Linked DNA regions of Homo sapiens: region 1 is linked to region 2. The links come from fine-mapping of genetic effects on gene expression. Tissue or cell type: thyroid. Region 2 holds a variant in brackets; the other region holds the start of a gene. All regions are shown on one strand. Distances are from middle to middle.

Region 1 (8,107 bases), 22 kb after region 2:
TTTTTTGGAGACAGAGTGTTACTCTGTCACCCAGGCTGGAGTGCAGCAGTGAGATCTCGGCTCACTGCAACCTCTGCCTCCTGGGTTCAAGAAATTCTCCTGCCTCAGCCTCCTGAGTAGCTGGGACTACAGGCATGCGCCACCATGCCTGGCTAATTTTTCTATTTTTAGTAGAGATGGGGTTTCAGCATGTTGGCCAGGCTGGTCTCGAACTCCTGACCTCATGATCTGCCCACCTCTGCCTCCCAAAGTGCTGGGATTACAGGCGTGAGCCACCACACCTGGCAGGTTACATGATCTTATACATAAAAAACCCTAAAGACTGCACCAAAAAACTATTAGAATAAACAAATTTAGTAATGTTGTAGGATATAAAATCAGTATACAAAAATGAGTACTGTTTCCAAATATTAACAGTGAACTATCTGAAAGAGAAATCAATAAAACAATCCTATTTGCAATAGCTACAAAAATATATTAAAATACTTAGAAATAAATACGGGCCAGGTGTGGTGGCTCACACCTGTAATCCCAGCACTTTGGGAGGCCAAGGCAGGCGAAGCACGAGGTCAGGGGTTTGAGACCAGCCTGGCCAACATGGTGAAACCCCGTCTCTACTAAAAATACAAAAAAATTAGCTGGGCGTAGTGGTGGGCACCTGTAATCCCAGCTACTCAGGAGGCTGAGGCAGGAGAATTGCTTGAACCTGGGAGGCGGAGGTTGCAGTGAGCCGAGATGGCCCCACTGCACTCCAGCCCGGGTGACACAGTGAGACTCCATCTCAAAAAAAAAAAAAAAAAAAAGAAAGAAATTTAACAGAAGTAAAAGACCCGCACACTGAAACCTATAAAACATTGATGAAAGAAACTGAAGAAGACAGAAATAAATAAAAAGACATCTCATGTTTATGGGTTGAAAGAATTAATATTGTTAAAATGTCCAAAGTGATCCACAGATTCAATGCAATCCCTATAAAAATTCCAATGACTTTTTCGCACAGCTAGAAAAAAAAGTCTAAAATTCCTATGGAATGACAAAAGAGGCTGAATAGCTAAAGAATTCTTGAGCAAAAAGAACAAAGCTAGAAGCATCATACTGCTTGATCTCAAAATACACTACAAAGCTACAGTAATCAGAACAGCATGGTACTGGCAGAGAAACAGACAAACCAACTGAACAGAATAAAGAGTCTATCAGTTAATAGGATGCTCATTTTTAAAAAAAAATAAAAAGTGAAAAAAAGAATAAAGAGTCCAGAAGTAAATTTACCCATTTACAGTCAATTGTTCAATAAGGGGACAAGAATACACTATAGGGAAAGGATATTCTCTTCAATAAGTAGTAATGGGTAAATGGGATATCCATATGCAGGAGAATGAAATTAGAGGCTTATCTCATACCATATATAATAATCAACTCAAATAAATTGAAGACGTTATGTGTACCCCCTGAAACTGTAAAAAACGAGAGGGAAAAGCTCCATGACATTGGTCTGAGTAGTGATTTTTTAGATATGACCCCAAAAGCACAGGCTACAAAAGCCAAATAGACAAATGGGATTACATAAAACTGAGAAGTTTCTACAGAGCAAGGGTTACAATAGACAGACTGAAGAGACAACAGAGAACAGGAGCAAATATTTGCCAGCCATACATCTGATAAAGGGATAATATCCAAAATATATAAGGAACTCAAACAACTCAATAGTAAGAAAGCAAATAATCTGATTATAAAATGGGCAAAGGATGTGAATAGACATTTCTCAAAAGAGGACATACAAATGGCCAACAGGTATATGAAAAAAAGTTCAACGTAATTAATCATCAGACAAATGCAAATTAAAACCACAATGAGAGATATCACTTCACACCTATTACAATGGCTATATCAAAAAGACAAAAGATAACAAGATTGGAGAGAAAATAGAGAAAAGGAAACCCTTGCACACTGTTGGTAGGAATGCAAATTAGTACAGCCATTATGGAAAACAGTATGGAAGTTGCCAAAAAATTTAAAAATAAAACTATCATGTGATCCAGCCATCCCACTACAGGGTATATATCCAAAGGAAATAAAATCACTATTTTTTCTTTTATTGAAATTAAAAAAAATCTTTTTATAGAGATGGGGTCTTGCTATGTTGACCAGGCTGGTGTTGAACTCCTGGCTTCAAGCAATCCTTCCATCTTGGCCTCCCAAAGTGCTAGGATTACAGGCGCGAGCCACCGTGTCCAGCCAAAATCACTATTTTTAAGAGGTATCTGCACTCCCATCTTTATTGCAGCATTATTCACAATAGCCAAGATATGAAATCAACCTAAGTGTCCATCAATGAACAACTGAATAAAGAAAATGTGGGGCTGGGCACTGTGGCTCACGCCGGTAATCCCAGCACTTTGGGAGGCTGAGGCAGGTGGATCACGAGGTCAGGGGTTCAAGACCAGCCTGGCCAAGACAGTGAAACCCCGTCTCTACTAAAAATACAAAAATTAGCCAGGTGCAGTGACAGGCGCCTGTAATCCCAGCTACTCGGGAGGCTGAGGCAGGAGAATAGGGGTGGGGTGGAGGTCGGGGGGGTTGGGGCAGAGGGTGGAGATTGCAGTAAGCCCAGATTGCACCACTGTACTCCAGCCTTGGTGACAGACTCCATGTCAAAAAAATAAAATAAAATGTGGTATATATATACGGTGGAACATTATTCAGCCTTAAAAAATAAGGAAATTCTGTCTTTTGTGACAACATGGATGAACCTGGGGACATTATGTTAAGTGAAATAAACCAGACACAGAAATATACCACAAGATCTCATATATATGGAATTTAAAAATGTTGAACTCATAGAAGTAGTGGGTAGAATGGTGGTTGCCAGGGGTAAGGGGTGGCGGAGAGAGAAAAAGAACAAAAAGTAAGATGTGCTCAAAAGGTAATGGAGGCATGTCAAATGGACTCAGGAGTCTGCTGGAAGGGGCTCACACCAGCCAAGGCGGGGACACCTGGAGCACAGAAATGAATAGTGGCAGTAATGAACTATAACATGTTGGAAAAAAATGAGTCCAAAGTCATACTAACCAATATAAAGAAAGAAAGAAAAAGATGGAACGCTATTAGTTGCAGTAAAATTCAACTAATACATACAGAGGAATAGAAGTATAATATCATCGAACAATAATTGATTCAGCAAGAATCCTAAATCTGTGCTTGAATGAAAGTTTTTGAGGAGGATATATACACAGACAAATAATCTCTCTACAGATAAAATTCATCTGGAATTAATTTTGGATGTCTAGTGTGAAGTGAGAATCTAAAATGATTTCTTTTGCAAAAACAGTAGCCCAGTTTTCAATCTCTTTTCCACAGAAATTAAACTGTAAGCTAATATAGATATTAGACGGTAAGCTTCTTGAGGACATGGACTGTGTAATGTTCACATATATTTTTATTTTTTAGGCTAGTCAAGTGAAGCAGTGGGATACGTTCATAATTCTATCCTTAGTGTAGTGCTTCTATAACTAACACACTGCAGGTTAAATTAGGGACTCAAAAATATTTGCGGAGTGCACTTTTTTTTTTTTTTTTTAAACCATAGATGGAGTTTCTACATACACTGCAGTCGTCGTGGCTGGGCAATTTATTCTTTTCATATGATCTCTGTACCTATTTCATACTTTATTGTAGGTTTATGAAATATTAACATAGGGTGATAATTACGAGGGCCTTTTTTGCTTATCTTAAATTTTTAAAAAAAATTTTTTTAAAGGAAGGCAGAGACTTGAGCATCTTTATGGGCTGAGGAGGCAGAGTCATTGGAAAAGGGGAGGTTGCAGATACGGTGCAAGCTCCCAGACAGGAGAGGGTGAATTGGGGGCCAAAAGGATTGAGCTGGGGAAGAAGAGGCCCCTTCCTCAGAGAGATGAGGGAGAAAGGCAGACCAGGGCAGATGTGGATGTAGGTAAATGTTGTGGTGTGTGGGGAATTAGCTTGTTAAGGGTCACGCCCAGATACCTTGGGATTTTTCACGTGGGTATAAAATATGATTCTCTGATGAGAATGATGGTCAAGGTAATGTGGGGGTCGTGGTGGTGGTCTGACGCAGCAGTAATAAGGAATGGGAGAAGCTGACTACAGACTCCCAGAAAGATTGCTGAAGGGCCCAGCTGAGGATGGTGACTGGGATTTGCACTGGACTCAACCTGCAGGTTTCGATGGTGCTTTCCAACTCCAGGAAAACTGGGCTGGGATTTGACAAAACTCTTGAGGAAAAGGACTCACAGAATTTAAAACTGCATTTCCCTTTAGGTTTCGTCTGCTTTCCATCCTCCCCTACCAAGCCCCACAACTGCGGCGAGCATGTTTTCTGCAGTTAACTGCACTGCGCTCTCAGCAGGACAGAAATGACGAATAACTCTAGCCAAGCTGAACAAGATAGGGCTTGGGCTTGGTAACTTTATTTGCATCAGCATTTGCAACACAACACCTAAATGAAAAAATTAACTATAAAGCCGACATCACTTACTCTGGGTCAGGGAACTGTGCCATTCGCTTTAAGTGCATTTACTTAATCTCAAAAAAGTATTAAGAAGTGAGTCCTTTTATTAATCCGACTTTACACACCAGAGGTCTAAGGCCTAAATAAATGAGCAATTTGCTTAAGATCATATGGCTGGTTATTGGTGGAGTCATGCAAGTCTGGAAACAGAGTCATCGCTAACTCCGGTTCAGTGCTACACGAGTGAACTGTCTACAACAAAGCAATAACATATTATGAGTGCCCACAGTATCGAACACATACGGTAACCGCAGTCCAGCCAGCACCCCTGCAGTGCCCAGAGCACCAAGCACCCATCCGTTGACCCCGCATGCGTGACGCTCACGCGCGCAGTCCCCCTGGCTTCTTCCAGGAAGGCTGAAGCGGCCTAATCTCGGCCAAAAGATCAGGACGACTCGATCTGGGCTGGACTCCTTCTGCCTGAGCATCTGATCCGAGCGTCGGCCGGGCTGGGAGGAGCCGGCCCCCGGGAAAGATTTCGGACTGGGGGACAGGAAAACAGAGGGCGGAGTCTTGGGGGGGGGAAGCGAGAAGCCGCATCAACCATGTAAGCAGCTTCGCTTCCTGCCGCAACCGTCCGCGGCCTGAGGAGCCCACCGCCGCTCTCGGGGGCCGACTTCCGGGGGCTGAGCCGTTGAAGCGGAGGCTGGGGCGGGGGGCAGCCGGCGCGGCCGGGGCAGGAGGCGCAGGTAAGGGAGGGGGCCTGGAGCTTGGCCGGCTGGGGCTCAGCATGGGAAGGAGGCCGGTATGGGGAGCTCCAGGGCCAGAGCTGAGGTGAAAGTGAGAACCAGGGCTCCGCAGTCGGGGGCTAGGGCCTGGCTGCCGGCTGAGCAAGGAAGGGCAGAGAATCTGGCTTTAGAATTAGCTTGTCCTCCCTATTCCCCGGCTGCCTTGTCTGGCGAGTGGGGACGGAAGCCGGGTGGGGCCCTTGAGATTTCCTTGGAAACATTTGAAGTTCCTTTGCCTCTCTCTCGACCCTTACGCCTGAACTTAATTAGGAGGGGAAGAGTACAGTTACTTTTCCCTCTGAGTGCATGAGTTCTGAGTTTGTCAGAGGCGCATCCGTAGGCTGGAAAAGAAAGTTCATGAGCTGCAGAAACGATACCAACCGTGGGGGTTCAAATAAGTGTTTGTCTTTTTAAATGCTTGCCTCTGCTATTTGAGACGATTCCATTTCAACTTAGGTTTTGGAGTTTCTTGAGGAGGAGCATTATTTCCCAATTAGTGTTTACCCTTTGCTTAGAATGTTCCCAACAAAAGGATGAGAATGGAATGTGTTGGAAACTTTTAGGACTTAGGGGTTTTCTGCCCAATCAGAGGTTATTCCTAAGACAGTCAAGAAATATAAGAAGTGCTAGAATTCTGTATAAAGCAAGTTATTCGTGTGTATCTGATGTGTATACATGATTCATTATCTACTATTGACGCAGTGCATCCTGTGTTGTAAAATATGTCCAGTGTTGACAATAGAGGTAGTCGCTTGGTATAATGTACTTATTTCTGATTTATTTGAGCCCCTTTTTTGGCACTCCAAAACTCCCACTCTGTCAGTTTTCTTACAAAAAATGTTCTTTCTTTTGTGTTTGTGACAAAGATTGTGTAGGTTAAATCTCTTCTGTGGAGCAAGGCTAATTTCCTGTGTTCTCCCTTTTTCTGCTTTCTGGATCCTGCTCTGGTTTTCCTTTAAGCGTGTTGGTCAAAAATTGAACAAGAAATCTTTGTTGATAGAAGCTAACATTTCCAATATTCAGCTTTCCTAAATTATTACATTGCCAGTTTTTTTTTTTTTTTTTTTTGAGAGACAGAGTCTCGCTCTGTCCCCCAGGTTGGAGTGCAGTGGCGCGATCTCCTCCGACTGCAACCTCCGCCTCCCAGGGTTCAGGCGATTCTCCTGCCTCAGCCTCCTGAGTAGCTAGATTGCAGGCGCGCGACACCACACTCGGCTAATTTTTGTATTTTTAGGGGAGACGGGGTTTCACCATGTTAGCGAAGCTGGTTTTGAATTCCTGACCTCAGGCGATTCACCCGCCTCGGCCTCCCAAGGTGCTGGGATTACAGGCGTGAGCCACCGGGCGGGGGTCTCCCTCCCTCGCCCAGGCTGGAGTGAAGTGGTGTGATCTCGGCTTACTGCAGTCTCCGCCTCCCAGGCTCAAGGGATTCTCCTGCCTCGGCCTCCCAAAGTGCTGGGATCACAGGTGTGAGCAGCCACGTCCGGCCTTTACTGACTGGCTTCTGATAGTTTGTAGTAGGTCTGCATATATTAGTAGCCTTAATTAGAAATGGTGAAGTATTGGTGATATATCAGAAGGCTTTGGGTAGGTAGGTTAATAGGACTGATTACCACTCAGGAAAGAGTCCTAATTTATATTTTAAAGCGTTGTTAAGCTGCTAAAGAGTGAGAGTTATAAGATAATTTTTTCAGGGCCCTAGTGTCATTATGTAATTATTAGGGTTAACTATATGATTGGGTTTATATTTCAGAGACTACACTTGCTAAGTGTTTTCATGGGAATTTTTATCTTCTTATTTCCAAAGCCGAGTATAATTTTTGTGTAGATAACCTTTAGAAGTAATTCTAAGACTCTTTAGGCAGAATGTCATCTCTGCCTCTGACATTACTTGTGTCAAAGTAGAATGTAGGCTGTTTTCCAGGGGTGGTTGTTACGGCCATCACATTATCGTTTCTCTCCAGAGCTCTTTTTTTTTTTTTTTTTTTTTTCCCTAAATAAAATAGAGATGAAGTCTCGCTATGTTGACTAGGCTGGTCTGGAACTCCTGGCCTCAAGCGATCCTCCCGTCTCAGCCTCCTAAAGTGCTGGGATTACAGACATGAGGCCACAGTGCCTGGCCTCTTTTTTTTTTTAATATAAAAAAAACACAAACTTTTTTTTGAGTGTATACTTATTCAGTTATCAGCTTACTTCCCAACACTTTTTGCTGAATTGTCATGACACTTCAGAAGGATTGTTGATGATTATTCTCAGTGGAAGATATTAGAAACCTTCCTTCCCCTTCTTCTTCCTTTTCTCCTTCCTCTTTCCTTCCCCTTCCTCTTCCTCTTTTTCTTCCCCCCCCAATAAACATGTATTGCCAAAATTCTGTTTAAGTCAGTGGTTTCATTTCTGCCTTAATTTATTAATTAAATTATTGATCAGACAAAGCCTTAAGTAGTTAGAGAACGCGGATAGGCTAAAAGGGAAGTGTGAAGAGCTACAAAAGTAATTTTGATTTAGGTAATACTTTTGGGGTGAGACTTGGGGTATAGTGACAGTTCTACTAATGTCTGTGTGACCCCCAAGAAAGTTGTTTTAGGTTCAGAGTACCTTGGTTGCCTCAAAGGTAAAATGTCATAAAGCCAGCTGTGTGTGCCTTCCAGGATTGTAAGAGTAAAATGAGATGGTAGCTATGATTTTGAATGTGAAAAGCATTTTACCGAGACTGTAATGTCCTCTTTGTAAAGTGGAGACTAGATTATAAACTATAGTATATATATTGTTTTCTCCAAGGGAGGAACCTTGTCTTTATTTTGAAACAGTAGGTAGCCTCCTGGTGGCTGGAACA
Region 2 (8,107 bases):
CACCATTTGATTCTGTATTGTCTATGACTGCTTTCCTGCTACAATGGCAGAGGCAAAGTTGAATAGTTGTGTAGTTGCAAAAAGACTATATGTTCCACAAAGCCTAAAATGTTCACTATCTGACAATTTACAGATATCTGCTGACTCCTGAACTAGATGATGAATAACAATTTATATAATTCCAGAAAGCACCGATGCTCTGAGCCCAGTGAGGATAAGTGTTAATTTGACCATAGAAACTAGGGCATCTTATACTTACTTGGGTAAACCTTTAATGCAAGCAGCCAAGTCCTTGGTCATGAAGCCAGCCTCAATTGTCTCAATAGAGACTTCTTCCAAAGCATTTGCAAAGAAGGCAAGCTCTTTATTGTTATCAAGCTTTGCTCTGTGGGCTAACCCTCTGGTCCAGGCAAAAATGGAAGCTAAAAGAGGGGAAAAAAAACACAACACTCCAATCATCCTAGTTATAGAGGTTTCCAAATGTCTCATAGTTCCCCAAAACAGAATAGTTTTTTGTTTAGGTGACAGACTTCTTTAGATACTAACCACATGGGCTAGAAGTTTTAGGAGAGTTAGAAATATTTTACCAAACAGAAACTTTAAAAAAACACATTTTCATGGCATGGTACTAGTGTTTGAAACTTAAGGCATTTTCTAATTTGAAAAAGGTCACAATCTCTTCTATCTCTTGTCTATATTGGTCTCCTTTTTCCAGGCTGTAATCTCTTTTTGAAGTGCTATCTTTGAAACTTGTTAAAAGGATCTATCCATGTGACTTTTAGATTTGTAGCCTTATGTGACATTTCACTGCACCAGAGGTAAAGGAAAATGCTTGTTGATAACATTCCTCTCTGTAACCTATGTTCTCCCACAAAACAGAAAAGCAAATATTGTATATTTTAAGAAGCATATTCAAATAGATCTTACTAGTAGAACAAATCAGCTACTTGGTGATGACTTTGCACACAAAACACTGAGCAGCCAAGGGAACACATCTGGGCTGCTTTGGAGAGCACTCTCTGGTGAGAAATCAATGTAAACACCATCTTACCAATGGGATTGGTGGACGTCTCCTGTCCTTTCTGGTACATGCGGTAGTGACGGGTTACAGTCCCGTGGGCAGCCTCTGCTTCTACTGTCTTGCCATCTGGACAAACCAGCACGCTGGTCATCATGCCGAGAGAGCCATACCCTGTAAGTAGTGGAGCATGAAGCGTTGGGTCCAACTGCATGAAGAGCACTGAGTCTCTCAGAGATGAGAGCATAAATGACTCAATCTTGATAGGTCTTGGTAAGCAAAGTAAACAAGAGCACATGGAATCACCAATAATTCTGCCTTTCAGAAGGCAGGATCCCCGCTCCAGATATCAGAGCCAATGGGTCTGGAAAGGCTGCATTTTCCCCTCACTTATTTCAGGGATACCTACTCCTTGATGGAGGGTTCAGGGTCCAACTGCCTACATTCCACTCTAGTTCTATGACTTCATAGCTACTGCGGCTCAGTTTTCTTATCTGTAAAATGGGAGTAATAACAGCACCTACTTCACTAGGTTGCTGTGGGATTAGATAAATATACATATATTCATAAATATATATGAATATATATTTATATTCCTTAGAATAGTACTGGACACAGAGCTCAATCTATTATTGTTATTCTTATGTGCAATGCTCTGCTGTTCTGGGGAAATAAAGATGGACGAGAGCTGTCTCTTAAGAACCCTCAAGCTGCTCATACACTTGCTGGGACTGGGAAGAGAAGGCAGGTAAACACAGGATCGGTTGGATCTAAGAACATCCCAGTTGCCCTTCCTCGCTCTCTTTCATACCCTCAGTACAACAGTTCTCTTCTGTGGTTTCTTATTGAAAGAACCACATTACAACTCTTATATCTATATAATTGATTTTCTTCTTTTCTCCATTTTTGCTACCTCCCAACATCACCTGTGAAGTTAATAATCAACCACGGAGTCATCACAAAGCAATAACACTCCTTCCTCTGTTGCATTCAGTACAAATGATTGTGAGGATGTAGAGAAACAGAAGGATGGTAAGGAGAGTTGTGTAACTCATTTATCTGGCAAAAAGTTATCTTTAACCAGGTTGATCTACTGATTTTCAAACTGAGAGGAGATGTTTAACACTGATAAGAGACAGAAAAAGTAGTACTTCTTGGGAAAAACAAACATAATTAAAGTTAACAAACATTCATCTGGGGAGATTCAAGTTCATACAGCTACCAAGGGCAACTGAAACTGAAGGGCAACTTGGTGCTGAGGAAACCAGGCGCTGTGTTTCTGTTGATTTGGCCCTTACCCCATGCATGAAACTTCTCCTGGAATTTCTGTAAACAGCCCCTAGGGTTCTTTGCTCAATTGATTTGTGTGTAAGCTAAGCAGTAAACAAAAACACTTTTTCTTTGTTGTTGTTGAGACAAGAGTCTTGCTCTGTTGCCCAGGCTGGAGTATAGTGGCGTGATCTCAGCTCACTGCAACCTCCGCTTCCCAGGCTCAAGAAATTCTCATGCTTTAGCCTCCTGAGTGCCAGGGACTATAGGCATGCGACCACACCTGGCTAATTTTTTTTTTTTTTTTTTTTTGAAGTAGAGATGGGGTTTTGCTATGTTGGCCAGGCTGGTCTTGAACTCCTGGCCTCAAGTGATCCACTGCCTTGGCCTCTCAAAGTGCTAGGATTACAGGCGTGAGCCACTGTGCCCAGCCAAACACATTTGTTTTATATTCTACCAGAACAGCAGCTGGCAGAGGGACATGAGTAGGTCCTGCTGCCCAATAAATGAGCTTTGCAGGCACCAAAGCTTGGTTATGACATGATCAAGCTCCTCACTTTATCCCTCCTTGCCTGAGTGCCCTGGTTTTTTACATTTTCACCAAAGGACAAGGAGGGCAGGGAAAGGGAGTGATTTTCAGATCAGGTAGGCTTTAAAACTTCAAGGAGTGACACTGGAGCCAGGAGTGTCAATCCACTAATTTACTTCCCATGTGGTCTTGAGTAAATCATTTCTCTAGTCTGAGCTTAATTTCCTTAGCTGTCAGGTAAGACGGTGGACCTGGAGGTTTAACATTCCAAGATTTTACAACAAAGGACTACAAAACTCCCCTTCCCAAATTAGAGAACTACCCTGGAATGACCCTGTTCCTACAGGCCAGGCTCCACCTCTGTACCTTGGGCCACAGAGTCCGACTGCACGTCACCATCATAGTTTTTACAGGCCCAGATGAAGCCTCCCTCTGATTTCATAGCTTGGGCCACCATGTCGTCGATGAGCCTATGCTCATACCAGATCTTTTGAGCTTCAAACTGGGACTTGTACTGCCTGGGAAACAAAAGGTAAAAGAGAATAATAATAAAGAAAATTGATTTTGTTAGGGATATCATCTGCTTGTCCCAAACAGAAGACCGGACACACAAGAAGCAGCATATTTTAGTAGAAGTAGCAGAAACTCAGGAATCTGACAGACATTGGCTCAAATCCTAGCCCAATCATTTTCTAACTGTAAAACTCAATTTGACTATCTGTAGGAACAATTTTACCCACCTTGCAGGGAAGCCGTGAGAATTAAGTGAGACAGTAGAGTATCCCAATGACTACTTCACTTTTCAGTTTTCATTATACTATAGATCAGATTCTTGAGATTCAGCTTATTTTTAAAATACATTTTTGAAAAGACTGTTCTACTTCTTGGTGTCATTCAGGAAACTAAAATATATTCCAGACAGTTTCTGGGCTTGGTATAGATGGGCAGCAGGAGGAGGAATCAAAATGCCTCAGGAACATTTTGGCCTGAACACTTGCACCTAAAGGGAGTTATGCCAATCTTAAATATTAACACATGCTCACCTCCTGTGCTGTGGAAGCCAGTGTTGTTATAAACTTAGACTTAAGTTCAAATGACTCCACTAAAACAGAATTTTAAATTCTTTTTTTTCTTTTCTTTTCTTTTTTTTTTTTTGAGACGGAGTCTCGCTCTGTCGCCCAGGCTGCAGTGCAGTGGCGTGATTTCGGCTCACTGCAACCTCCGCCTCCCGGGTTCACGCCATTCTCCTGCCTCAGCCTCCCCAGTAACTGGGACTAGAGGCGCCCGCCACCACGCCCGGCTAATTTTTGGTATTTTTAGTAGAGTCAGGGTTTCACCGTGTTAGCCAGGATGGTCTCGATCTCCTGACCTCGTGATCCGCCCGCCTCGGCCTCCCAAAGTGCTGGGATTACAGGCATGAGCCACCGTGCCTGGCCAACAGAATTTTAAATTCTAACAATGGGCTTCAGAAAGAATGGAAATGGGTCTGACTTAGAAACTCACACATGAAAAATTAGAACTTATCACTAACAGCGTACGTTTATTTAAACATTAAAGAACCTGGCTCTGAAAACAATTC[A/C]TGTGGGGACCTTATTTAAGAACATGTTTATCTTATAAAAGCAAGTCAGAGTGGTTTTGTTTCACTCCTGCTAAACCTCAGTTTTGCCCTTATCTTTAAGAGACAGTGATGATTTTCACTCAATTTACCCAGAATCATAGGGATAGGGAGATACATACTCTATATGCAAATGTCAGCTTACTTGAGAATAAAGAAAAAGTTAAAAAAGAACTATAGTTACTTGTCATATATCTCCTGAAAGATGTCTTTAAAACGCCCATCATATTTCTTCAGAATAGTGTTTTTGGTGCTCAGATACAAAGGCCAACCCTTAGACAGAGCCATTTGGAAGGAACTGTGTGCAAAATCTTCAATTGACTTATCTTGATTATACATCCCCATGGCAACACCACCACCTTCTGTAGAGGAGAAGCCAGTGAGAGGAAAAAAGGGAGAAGAATAAATGTAATGTAGTTGTAATAAGGCTAAAATCACCCACCACAACCAAATGACCTACTTCTCAGCTCTCACATCTGAGACTAGATTTCAGAAGTCCCAGACAGGTTTCCAACAAATTTCTGAGGCACATAATGAGAGAAAAGCCAGTTCTAGATAAGGACATTCTAACTTGTTTTGGAAGGACAGCAGAAATGAAAAAACATACAGTCTTTAAAATCCTGAAGATGCAGAAATGCCAAAAACTGATATGAACCAGAAATACATTTAAGAAAAGGCAAATAATTTTGAAACTTCTTTTACATACTGATATGGTTTGGATATTTGTCCCTTCCAAATCTCATGTTGAAATGTGATTCCCAGTGTTGGAGGTGGGGCCCAGTGGGAGGAGATTGGAACATGGGGTTGGATCCCTTATGAATGGCTTAGGACCATCCCCTTTGGTGATTACGTGAGTTCTCGCTCAGTTAATTCACTTGAAATCTGGTTGTTTAAGAGTCTGGGACCTCCCCCTTCTCTTTCTCTTGTTCCCGCTCTTGCCATGTGATACACCTATTGTCTGTTTGCCTTCTGCCAAGATTGGAAGCTTCCTGAGGCCCTCACCAGGAACAGGTGTTGGAGCCAGGCTTGTACAGCCTGCAGAACCATGAGCCAATTAAACCTCTTTTCTTTATAACTTACGCAGCCTCAGGTATTTCTTTATAGCAACGCAAGAATGGACAAACACCCTACCTTTACAATTCCCAACATCTATTTTAAACTTTAGGGGTGTACTCAATCCTCAGTTATTGAGAAAAACTTAAATTTCAAATACTGAATGAAAATTCTTATAATCTCCTGGAGGATACTGAGCACTCCTACTGTAGTTGGTAGAAATAAGTAGAAATAATTATGCTACATGTAATCACTGTGTTTTACAACTATTATTGAACTTTGTTATTACTTAAAGATAGAACTTGAATCCATGCCAATGCTCAGGGTTAACTTGGGTTCAGGGTGAAAGGTGCTGAAGCCTGCAGAACCAGATTCCAACAGATATTATTTGGAAGAGGCAAGAAAAACAAAAGGTAGGTGAGTGTTGGGTATTTTTGTTTGTGTGAGTGCTTTCAACAACTTCAATAGTGAAGGAAAAGGGCCCACTAATTATTTCAACAACTTTTGGGTGGGATTTGCCATCAAAGGTAGCAGGGTAGCTGGGAAAGAAAAGGCAAAAAGCAAATGTTCTACTTTTTCACAGGATAAATACCCAGAAGGGCAAGAAGAAAACTTCAGCAAATATATAAGGAAACCTCTTCCAGATACAAGAGCCCTACCAGAGCAAAGGGCAGGATTATATGCTGGGTGATTTGAGAATATTAATATTTAATGTATATAATTCATGCACAGCAGATTTCTGCCAACCTTCTCTCTGTGCTTTAAGATAAATGCATAATCATCTCCTTGTCTTTGCCTAAAGGCATTTCCAATTAAGTGGGTAACCCTTTTGTGCCTTTATTCATGCCACAGGAAGGTATGGAAGCAAATTACTTCTTTATGTCAAGTTTCGGGTTTTGCAAAAACACTGTAGATTCAGATTATATTTTTAGGCAGTCACATAACTAACAAAAAAAGCAATAAAAATATTATCTAAATCATTTGTTTAAAAAAAAAAGAAGCTTATGCTACAGTCATACATACCTTCAAAGTTATGTACCAGGTATGTCACCTTTTGGGTTCCGTCACTTGGTGTGTAGGTTATCTCTACTTTTCCAGGCCCAGGAACAACAAAATCAGTTGCTCTGTACTGTGTAGAGGGGAAAAAGGTATAAAGAAAAAAAAAATACCCTAGCAGGAATTGTAAGGAGAATATTCATATAATATAGACCTAGAAGACACCTAGACAAATAGGGCAGTATGTCAAACTTCTTTTTTTTTTTTTTTTTTTAGGAGATGGGGATGAAGAGGTCCAGACATTCCCCTAAATCAGTAAATATTTATTAGGTGCCTATACGAGGTATAGGAAAGTTTTCTGAGCACTGATTTGAAGAGGACAGAGAATAACATAAGCCACTTTCCTTTAGGAAGTTTACAACCCTATAAAGACATATATAAGTGAAAAGCAATATAAGAGCTTTCAAATGCCAAAAGAGGGTATTAGACCCCCCCCCCAAAAAAAAAAAAACTATAGGATGACAGAGGAAAAGAGGTGACCATGGAAGGAAGTCAGGGAAGTCTCCCTAGAGGGTGATGATAACAATACTAATTGTAGTACTGAGGTAGCTAATGCTTTGTCCTTACTCTATGCCAGATGCTTTAAATGCTTAACTTGCATAATCTCATTTGATTCTTACATCAGTCTTACAAGGAGGGAACTATGATATAGTAGAAATAATGCATCCAGGGTCAAAGGACTTGAGGTCTCGTCCTTACTTAGGCCATCGGGGCTCGGTCTCTCATGGTATCATTGTTACTAGTGTTATAGGACTTGTTCATATGGAGCAATCAAATCATTCTGGGAGCAGCTACAATGGGATGATGATGATTTTTAGGAAAGGGCTGTTCAAGGACAGGCACCTCCCTCATGGGCCTCAGCTACTCAGTGGAATAATATGCCTGGCATATACTAGACATCCATAAGTCTTTGCTGCATTGTATCTTCTTCAATGAATTGAATCAGATACTTGCAGAGTTAGGTACCAGCAGGTGCCGGCCACATCTATAAGTGTAGAGAAATACTAATAACAACTGGTAAAAGAGCAGTAAGTAACAATAAAGATTAAACACCTACTTTACACAGAACATTTTTGACATATAAAATCCATAAAGTAAATATGGGTGGTAATTTATTACTATTTCTGAAAAGGGAGAAACTGAGGTACCAAAGCACCATAAATGCTTTGTATAGGTTTATGTATATTTAAACAGTCCATGAATCAACCTGAGGTTTGAAATTCTCTTTCTGGACTTTAATAAATAGAATGGCCATTTTTACAAATGACTGATGCCAAAATAATTAAAAAAAAAAAAAAAAAGAGGAAGGCCGGGCATGGTGGCATGCCTGTAATCCCAGCACTTTGGGAGGCGGAGGCGGAGGCGGGCGGATCACAAGGTCAGGAGTTTGAGACCAGCCTGACCAACATGGTGAAACCCCGTCTCTACTAAAAACACAAAAATTAGCCGGGCATGGTAGCATGTGCCTGTAATCCCAGCTACTCAAGAGGCTGAGGCAGGAGAATTGCTTGAACCCGGGAGGCAGAGGTTGCAGTGAGCCAAGATCACACCACTGCACTCCAGCCTG

Evidence for each region. PIP is the estimated chance that this variant, and not a neighbour inherited with it, causes the effect.
Region 1: it holds the start of PIKFYVE, and the variant in region 2 is fine-mapped to the expression of PIKFYVE in thyroid (GTEx, PIP 0.92).

Annotation. Positions count from the first base shown.
Region 1 is chr2:208,261,181-208,269,287 of GRCh38, forward strand. PIKFYVE (phosphoinositide kinase, FYVE-type zinc finger containing) reads left to right here and starts at 5,075. Exons shown (of 42, transcript NM_015040.4): 1 at 5,075-5,235. It also overlaps the pseudogene MYL6BP1. RefSeq lists an enhancer at 4,912-4,961 and a silencer at 5,092-5,361.
Region 2 is chr2:208,238,812-208,246,918 of GRCh38, forward strand. It overlaps IDH1 (isocitrate dehydrogenase (NADP(+)) 1), which reads right to left. Exons shown (of 10, transcript NM_005896.4): 5 at 6,508-6,613; 6 at 4,616-4,793; 7 at 3,183-3,334; 8 at 1,052-1,192; 9 at 260-422. Among named protein-coding and RNA genes, the nearest start is that of IDH1, 12 kb to the right of the region's middle. The variant A/C (reference allele first, on the strand shown) is at 4,396.